Linked DNA regions of Homo sapiens. The protein of the gene in region 1 interacts with the protein of each later gene in a pairwise test. Each region holds a gene or a part of one and is shown in the gene's direction. Other genes may lie near its edges. The genes, in order: STARD13 and EPB41L1.

Region 1 (3,815 bases):
TGTGTATGATACTGAGGAATCTTTGTTGCTAAGAACCAATGACAGCTTATGAATACAGCCACAGATATGTAAAAGAAGTAAGTGAACCAGACTTGTGGCATACTTTTGTGATAGAATTGGCATTTGTCAATGGGAAAAGTGTGCTAAAAAAGTAAAGCTATTCCCAAGTCATGTTTGATGTTTCCCTTCACAAGTCTGTCTGTTTTAAGTCTTATTCATAGTGGGTAAAGTTGTCTGAGCCCATATTTTGCCAAACTGAATAAAAAGACAGTAAAGGTAAAATAAAAGGGAAGTGAAAATAATAAAGGGGAAGTCATTGCAATGTTTTGAATAATAAATACAGCCTCAGAAACATGTTTGTATTTCCTGACTTTAGGAAGGCCCCTCCCGGCCTTGGCAATGATCTTAGAAAAACATCTCTGGCCGTGTGGCCCTCGGCCCGTGGCTCAGAGCCGGGTTGTGGGTGAAATGGCTTTGCTTTCTTTGAGTCTCGGCGTTTCTTTGGCTCAGTGTGTTGCCCTTTCATGCATCCGTTGGTCTAGGTTCCACACGAGTTGGTGGCCCAGTCTCGTAACTCGTATGTGGAGGCTGAGATCCACGTGCCAACCCTGGAAGAATTGGGGACACAGCTGGAGGAGAGTGGGGCAACTTTCCACACTTACCTGAACCATCTCATCCAGGGCCTCCAGAAAGAAGCCAAGGAGAAGTTCAAAGGATGGGTCACGTGCTCCAGCACGGACAATACAGATCTTGCTTTCAAAAAGGTAATCTCAGAGGATGGAAAAAGATCACCCCCAGAAAGCCACAGCTAACAATCAGACATTTGTTTTTGCATTGAAAACAGCTGCTGTGTCCACAGGGCTTGGCACACACGCGGACAGTTAAGGCACATGAACCATTCAAAGAACTCAGTCCAGAGATCTGTTGCCTATAATCAGAGAGTAAACTATGGAGCCGGACAGCTGGATCCCGGTCCTGTCTCTCCCCCGTAGCTGTGTGATGTTGGGCAAGTCACACACCTCTCTGTGCCTCAGTTTTCCCATTTGCAAAATGGACATTGTAAGAGTACCACTGTCGGAGGAAGGCTAATTTACAAACCAAATGGCTTAGAATAGTTCCTGGCACACAGTAACCACTAGGTGTGTTGGTGATTATTATTTTTATCATCATTATTATTCTTTTAAGCTTAAGGACTAAAATGTTACAGCTGAGGTATGTAGTATCACTCTCAATTTACATAATCAGTGATGGTTTTTGAACACCCAGCAAGGTATGATAGCAAAACTAAAAGCCCAAACAAAAAATGTTGGACCCATATCCCAGACAACCTCTTCAGCTTCTGACGTTGTCTTTCCCAAGGTGGGCGACGGGAACCCGCTGAAGCTGTGGAAGGCTTCTGTGGAGGTGGAAGCACCCCCCTCAGTGGTCCTGAACCGCGTGCTGAGAGAGCGCCACCTGTGGGACGAGGACTTTGTGCAGTGGAAGGTTGTGGAAACTCTAGACAGGCAAACAGAGATCTACCAGTATGTGCTGAACAGCATGGCTCCCCATCCTTCCAGAGACTTTGTGGTTCTCAGGTGAGCCTGACTCTAGGGTTTATGATGTTCTGTTCCAAAGGCAGGACGCGAACTGTAGATGTGAGCACTTCTCCTGGTGTCTCCCACCAAAGTCCAGCCTCCACGGGGAACACTAAGCCGGCTCTTGTTTCCCTCAGTGACATCTGAGTTTTCTGTGTCGATGCCCGACTTCCTGTGTCTTTTCACCCAGCCTACAGCTCTGCCTGGGCTCTCTGATTGCCCCTCTCCTTGTGGAGCACACAGTTTATTAGGCCATAAATATTATTCATTTCCTCAGAGCAGACGGCCCAGAAAAGCTGCTGTTTGTCCGGTTGCACTTTCTGCCAAATTATGCAAATGGATCTGACTGGCTTTTCTTCTGATTTTGTTTTTCTCCCCTGGGAAAGTGTGTGTAACTCTCAAGACTGGAGTAGGTTTGACTTCAGAACTCATCTGTATAACTTCAGATGCTCATAGCTATTACTATGCTCAGAAACCTTGGCACTGCCCTGGAGGTCCAGAAAATCTTGTTGATTCTGTGTCTGCCAAGGAAATATTTCTTCTGATTGATGTAAGGGTTGAGTTCCAGACCCCTGTTCTTGGGGTTTGGAAGGGGATGCTCAACCAATGATAGAAAGTTTGCACAGTAGAGATGCAGTGTTGCATCAGCCAGAACAGAAATTGAGGGTGCTAAAGAACCTGAATAGAAGGTAATTAGATCAATATATCCTTTTTTATTGAAAATCTTGGCAAGCCTTGTCTCATGTCACAGATCAGCAGTGTAAAAGGAACCTATTGTGAAACTCCCAAATGTATATTTAAAACGCTTTCTTTATGAAACCAGTTTTGATGGCAAACTAAAGGTTACTTTTCACATGAGCTCTTTATGACTTGGGAATTGGCCCATGGAACCTTGACTTTTAAAGGTCAATTTTCCCTAAATATATGTATTTATCTCTGCTTCCTTGGGATCCTGCTGGAGAATGCAGGCAGTTTATAAGGGTGGCATATTACCAAAGTTATTAGGACATTAGTCATCTGGTGGAATTAAACTTCATGCTTTCACTCCACAAGTGGAAAGTTGAATAGCTGTTGCAGGATGGCTGCCATAGGAATGGGGCCATGCCATAGCGTGCCTCCTCCCTCCCTCCAGAGGAGGCTGAGGGCCTGAGTCTGTGTGTAGAACCTCCCTCCTTCCATCCATCCGGCAACCCCACCAGCCTGCTATTTATCAGTGCTTCGTTCCATCACGACCACGTGCCAGGCACTGCAATAGGCTCTGGGTATGCCAAGGGAATGCAGCAAACCCCTCTCCTGCTCTCTTGGGGTTTGTATTTCACTGGGGAAAGTCCATAAAAAATAAGAAAGGGAGATGGGCTTACTTATCCTGGGAGGAATAAGATAGGGAGATAGTAAGGGATGGAATTTTAAATAGAATGGTCAGGGCGGGGTCTTGCTGCACTGATTTTGATCCAAGACTTGAAGAAGTGGAGTGGACCATGTGGCCCTGAAGGAGAAGAGGTGCAGCCCTCCACGGGCTAACAATGAACCAGATCTGGTTCCCAACAACAGGAATTCCTTATGTGTAGGATACAAGGAGGTGGAAAGTGATGAGTGTGGTGAGGAGGCACGGGGCTGAGATGCCTCCTGTCTTCAGAGCATCTTACAGTCTAGGCTAGCATGTATGAGGCTGGTCACCTTTCAGGATTGCTGCATTTGTCTCTCATGTCACACCCATTGCTAGCTCCTCGGGAGCTTCCGCTGAGAGTTGCTGGAGATTCTCCCATTTATCCCAACAAATCTCTACAACTTTCAGTCGTCACGATTTATCACATCTTCGTTCATGAAAAGAGTAGTCACAGCATGGAAGTCGCTGAGCATTTGTGTGGGGCTTGGTTATTCCCAAGTTCTTGTCAAGCACATATCACCATTTCTCTTCCTGGTGTAGGAGGACAGGGTGAAATCATGGAGGACATGACTTAGTAAGGGAATAGAATTTGTGGAGTAAATCATGGGAATTCTAATAATGCAATCTATTATGATAGATCCCTGGGGTAGAAAGGGAAGTTAGAGGTTGTTACAGAGATGTTCTCATAGCTCCTGACTCCCATCCACAACCTTTTTTCAAGGGGTAGCCACCTCTGCTTGAATAGCTCTAGGAACAGGGAGCTCACTGCCTCCCAGGGCAGCACATTTCATTTCTGAACAGTGCACATTGTTAGACAGTGCTTCTCTCCTGCACAGAAATGTACTTTCCTA
Region 2 (3,815 bases), on another chromosome or scaffold:
CTCCAGCATCCCCCATCTTTTGCCTGTGCCTATGAGGGCCTTCTCCCTCGCCTCTGGTGCTCTCCAGGTCATTTTCCTCATAGCTGCTGGAGAGATCTTAAAAAGTCCCTTAAATCAGATCATGGCAAGCCCACTCCCCCTTCCCATCCACACCCTTGCTTACACCTTTCAGGAACTCTCTTTAGCTCTTGAGCTAAACTTCAAACTCCTTCCATGGCCACCTACCTCTCCCACCTATCCCTTGCCACACTGCCCCATGCCCAAGGTGCTTTAGCCTCTTCGGCCTTGAGATCTTTGAATAAGTCGAGCTCTTTCCTGCCTGAGTGCTTCGCATTTGATGTTTCCTTTACCTGAAAGTATCTCCCCCTCTCGCTTCTCACATAGCTGGTTCCTTCCCATTCTTCAAATGTCAGCTCAAGATCACCTAGATCTAGGTCTAGAGGGGATCCCCTGCTCTTCCTTAGATGACAGGAGCCCCTATGCCTTCCCAGTTCTGCTGCACCACACATCTCCCTTCATTCCCCTTGTAGCCCTGATCAGTGTCTGCAATTATCTTGTTTGCTTATTTGTTATTGGAGGTCCCCTTCCCCTACTAGAATCTTCTGCCTTGGTCTCCATGTATCTCTAGTGTTTAGCACTGGACCCGTCACAGAGTAAGGGCTCAATCACCCTTATTGATTCAGTGAATGAACAGGCCAAAGTCGCAGATGCCTGAGAAGAGTTCAGAAAGAATGACTCACGTCTGTAATCCCAGCATTTTGGGAGGCTGAGGTGGGAGGACTGCTTGAGCCCAGGAGTTGGAGACCAGCCTAGGCAACATAGTGAGACTCATTCTCTACAAAAAATTAGCTGGTGTGGTGTCGTCTGACTGTAGTCCTGGCTACTTGGGAGGCTGAGGCAGGAGGATCTCTTGAGCCCAGGAATTCAAGGTTACAGTGAGCTATGATTGCGCCACTGTACTCCACCCTGGGCAAATGATCGAGACCCTGTGTCTCAAAAAAACATTAAACAAATAAAATAAAAAACACAAAGAATGGGCTAGTGGCGAGAGTGAGCTCAGGCCCTGCCTCTAACCTGCCCTTTTGGTTTTCCAGTATGAGCAATTTGAGAGCACAATTGGCTTTAAGCTCCCAAACCACCGGTCAGCCAAGAGACTGTGGAAGGTCTGCATCGAGCATCATACATTCTTCCGGTGAGCCTGACCTTGGATGGGGTAATGGGGATGGGGCAGAGGCCATGTGTATGGAGGGGAGCAGGGGGAGGAGTTAGTGAGAACTCTAGGAAAGTCCTCCACCCTTTCCCCAAGTCCCTCCCTTCCTGGACCACTTTGAATTGTTGTAGTTGGTGGAGTAGTGGGATGAAAGGCCAGCTGTGGTCTAACCTTGGGCCTGGCAGTGCAGGTCTGATTCCTCCTCCTCCCCTGCATCCCTCTGCTGCAGGCTGGTGTCCCCTGAGCCCCCACCCAAGGGCTTCCTGGTGATGGGCTCCAAGTTCCGGTACAGTGGGAGGACCCAGGCACAGACTCGCCAGGCCAGCGCCCTCATTGACCGGCCTGCACCCTTCTTTGAGCGTTCTTCCAGCAAACGGTACACCATGTCCCGCAGCCTTGATGGAGGTATGGCCCAAATTGGAGGGCTGGGCGGGGAATGGTCTTCAGAGGGAACTGGGGGAGTGGGCATGCTGGGTTCTGCAGAATGAGCAGGAAAATGGTAGATGCATCCCAAGTTCATCTGCACCAGGCTGGCCCCTCAAGACCAGTGCTGTCCCTGGGCAGCTCTTGGTGGCTTAGTCCCAACCTAGAGCTCACTCCCACTTGAGATGTGATACTACCACTCTCTGGATTCCCCACAACTTCCCTGAGTCGTGGTCTTTTGGGGTCCCAGGTTTAGCCATATGGTTTGGGCCACCTACCCAAGAAGCTTAGCAATCCACCAGTCTAACCTGTGGTCTAACCTTGGGCCTGGCAGTGCAGGTCTGATTCACCCTCCTCCCCTGCATCCCTCTGCTGCAGGCTGGTGTCCCTTACACTGGTCATCATCATACTAGGAGAATAGTGTCTTATGACTGCAGTGTGGAGCTGATGATGCCTTATCTGCTGGGAGGCCAGGGCATCGTTCTTGGTCATTCTTTTGGTTCTACTAGGTTCTGGGCTGATTGACAATCTAACCACATGGCACTCTCCACTGTCCCCATTTCTATTGGATTGATGGGTGCCCTTAACATCAATGAAAACTGGCCCTATATAGTCCTGTAGCAAGCAGATAGGGCTTAAAATGTGGTGCACAAACCACGTTTCATCAGAGTCGCCTGTGAGATTGTTAAGCAAGCACGAAAATTCCCAGGTTTTGCCCCAGACCTACTAAATCAGCACCCTTCAGGGCCCAAGTCTCTCCCCAGGATGTACACACTAGAGTTTGTAGGTGATGTTCGGAAGTCACATGGGTCACTGGGGAGATTCAGAATTATGCAGATCTGAGTTCAAATCTCGGCTTGACAGTCACCGTGGGCTGTTCTCTGGACACTGGAAGTGGTTCATAAATATCTGAATGAATGGATGGGTGACCTTAAGCAACTTATTTAACTCCCTGAGCCTATTTCCTCTTCTACAAAATACATAGTACCTACTTTGCTGTGTTCTAGGGAAAACTAAATGAGATCATGCCTAGAAAATATTCTGTGGCACATAGTAGCACCTTAAGAAATTGTACCCATCATTATTGTTTTTAGGTTTGTAGAGAGTGGCTTAAAGGTGGGAAGTGGGGGCTGGGCATGGTGACTCATGCCTGTAATCCCAGCACTTTGGGAGGCCAAGGCGGGCAGATCACCTGAGGTCAGGAGTTCGAGACCAGCCTGACCAATATGATGAAACCCCATCTCTACTAAAAATACAAAAATTAGCCGGGCGTGGTGGCATGCACCTGTAATCTCAGCTACTCGGGAGGCTGAAACAGGAGAATTGCTTGGACCTGGGAGGCAGAGGTTGCAGTGAGCTCACACCATTGCATTCCAGCCTGGGCAACAAAGCGAGACTCCATCTCAAAAAAAATAAAAAAAATAAAAAATAAAAAGGCCAGGCACAGTGGCTCACACCTATAATCCCAACACTTCGGGAAGCCAAGGCAGGTGGATCACGAGGTCCAGAGATCAAGACCATCCTGGCCAACATGGTGAAACCTCGTCTCTACTAAAAATACAAAGATTAGCCAGGCATGGTGGCAGGCGCCTGTAGTCCCAGCTACTCGGGAGCTCAGGCAGGAGAATCACTTGAACCCGGGAGATGAAGGTTGCAGTGAGCCAAGATTGCACCGCCACTGTACTCTAGCCTGGTGACAGAGCAAGACTCCGTCTCAAAAAAAAAAAAAAAAAAAAAAAGGTGGAAAGTGGGGACTTGGGTAGGGAAACCGTGGATACTCCCAGAACACCTTGGGGCAGGCCTCCAGGCAAGTTAGTTCTACTTATATTTTCTGAGTGTTATATGTGTGCCAGGCCTTGTGTTGGGTCCTGGGTATAGTATTTAGAGTGAATAGGTTTGGTCCTTTCCTTTGAGGAGCTCATAGAATAGCAGGTTTGTAAGCATTTGTTGTGGTTCAAGCAATGGGAAAAGCATGTGTAGAATGTAGAGTAGCCATGAGGAGGGAGGAATTAAGTCTAGAAGGGACAGAAATGGCTCTGCAGAAAGGGTGCCAACTGGGCAGGGTTTGGAAGGATACCTAGGAGTTTGCCAGGTGATTAAGAAAGTCTGATACTTTGTCTGGTATATGAAAATGAGACCTGTCTCAGGACTCCTGTGCATGTTTGAAAGATGTGTAGTTCTG

The links.
Region 2: the proteins of STARD13 (region 1) and EPB41L1 interact in a two-hybrid assay, tested with the Homo sapiens proteins (one study listed by BioGRID and IntAct).

The regions. Positions count from the first base shown.
Region 1 is NC_000013.11:33,107,635-33,111,449, reverse strand, and holds part of STARD13 (stAR-related lipid transfer protein 13), read left to right. Parts: intron 1-542; coding exon 543-764; intron 765-1,359; coding exon 1,360-1,577; intron 1,578-3,815. UniProt on the Homo sapiens protein: GTPase-activating protein for RhoA, and perhaps for Cdc42. May be involved in regulation of cytoskeletal reorganization, cell proliferation and cell motility. Acts a tumor suppressor in hepatocellular carcinoma cells.
Region 2 is NC_000020.11:36,189,183-36,192,997, forward strand, and holds part of EPB41L1 (band 4.1-like protein 1), read left to right. Parts: intron 1-1,094; coding exon 1,095-1,192; intron 1,193-1,439; coding exon 1,440-1,615; intron 1,616-3,815. UniProt on the Homo sapiens protein: May function to confer stability and plasticity to neuronal membrane via multiple interactions, including the spectrin-actin-based cytoskeleton, integral membrane channels and membrane-associated guanylate kinases.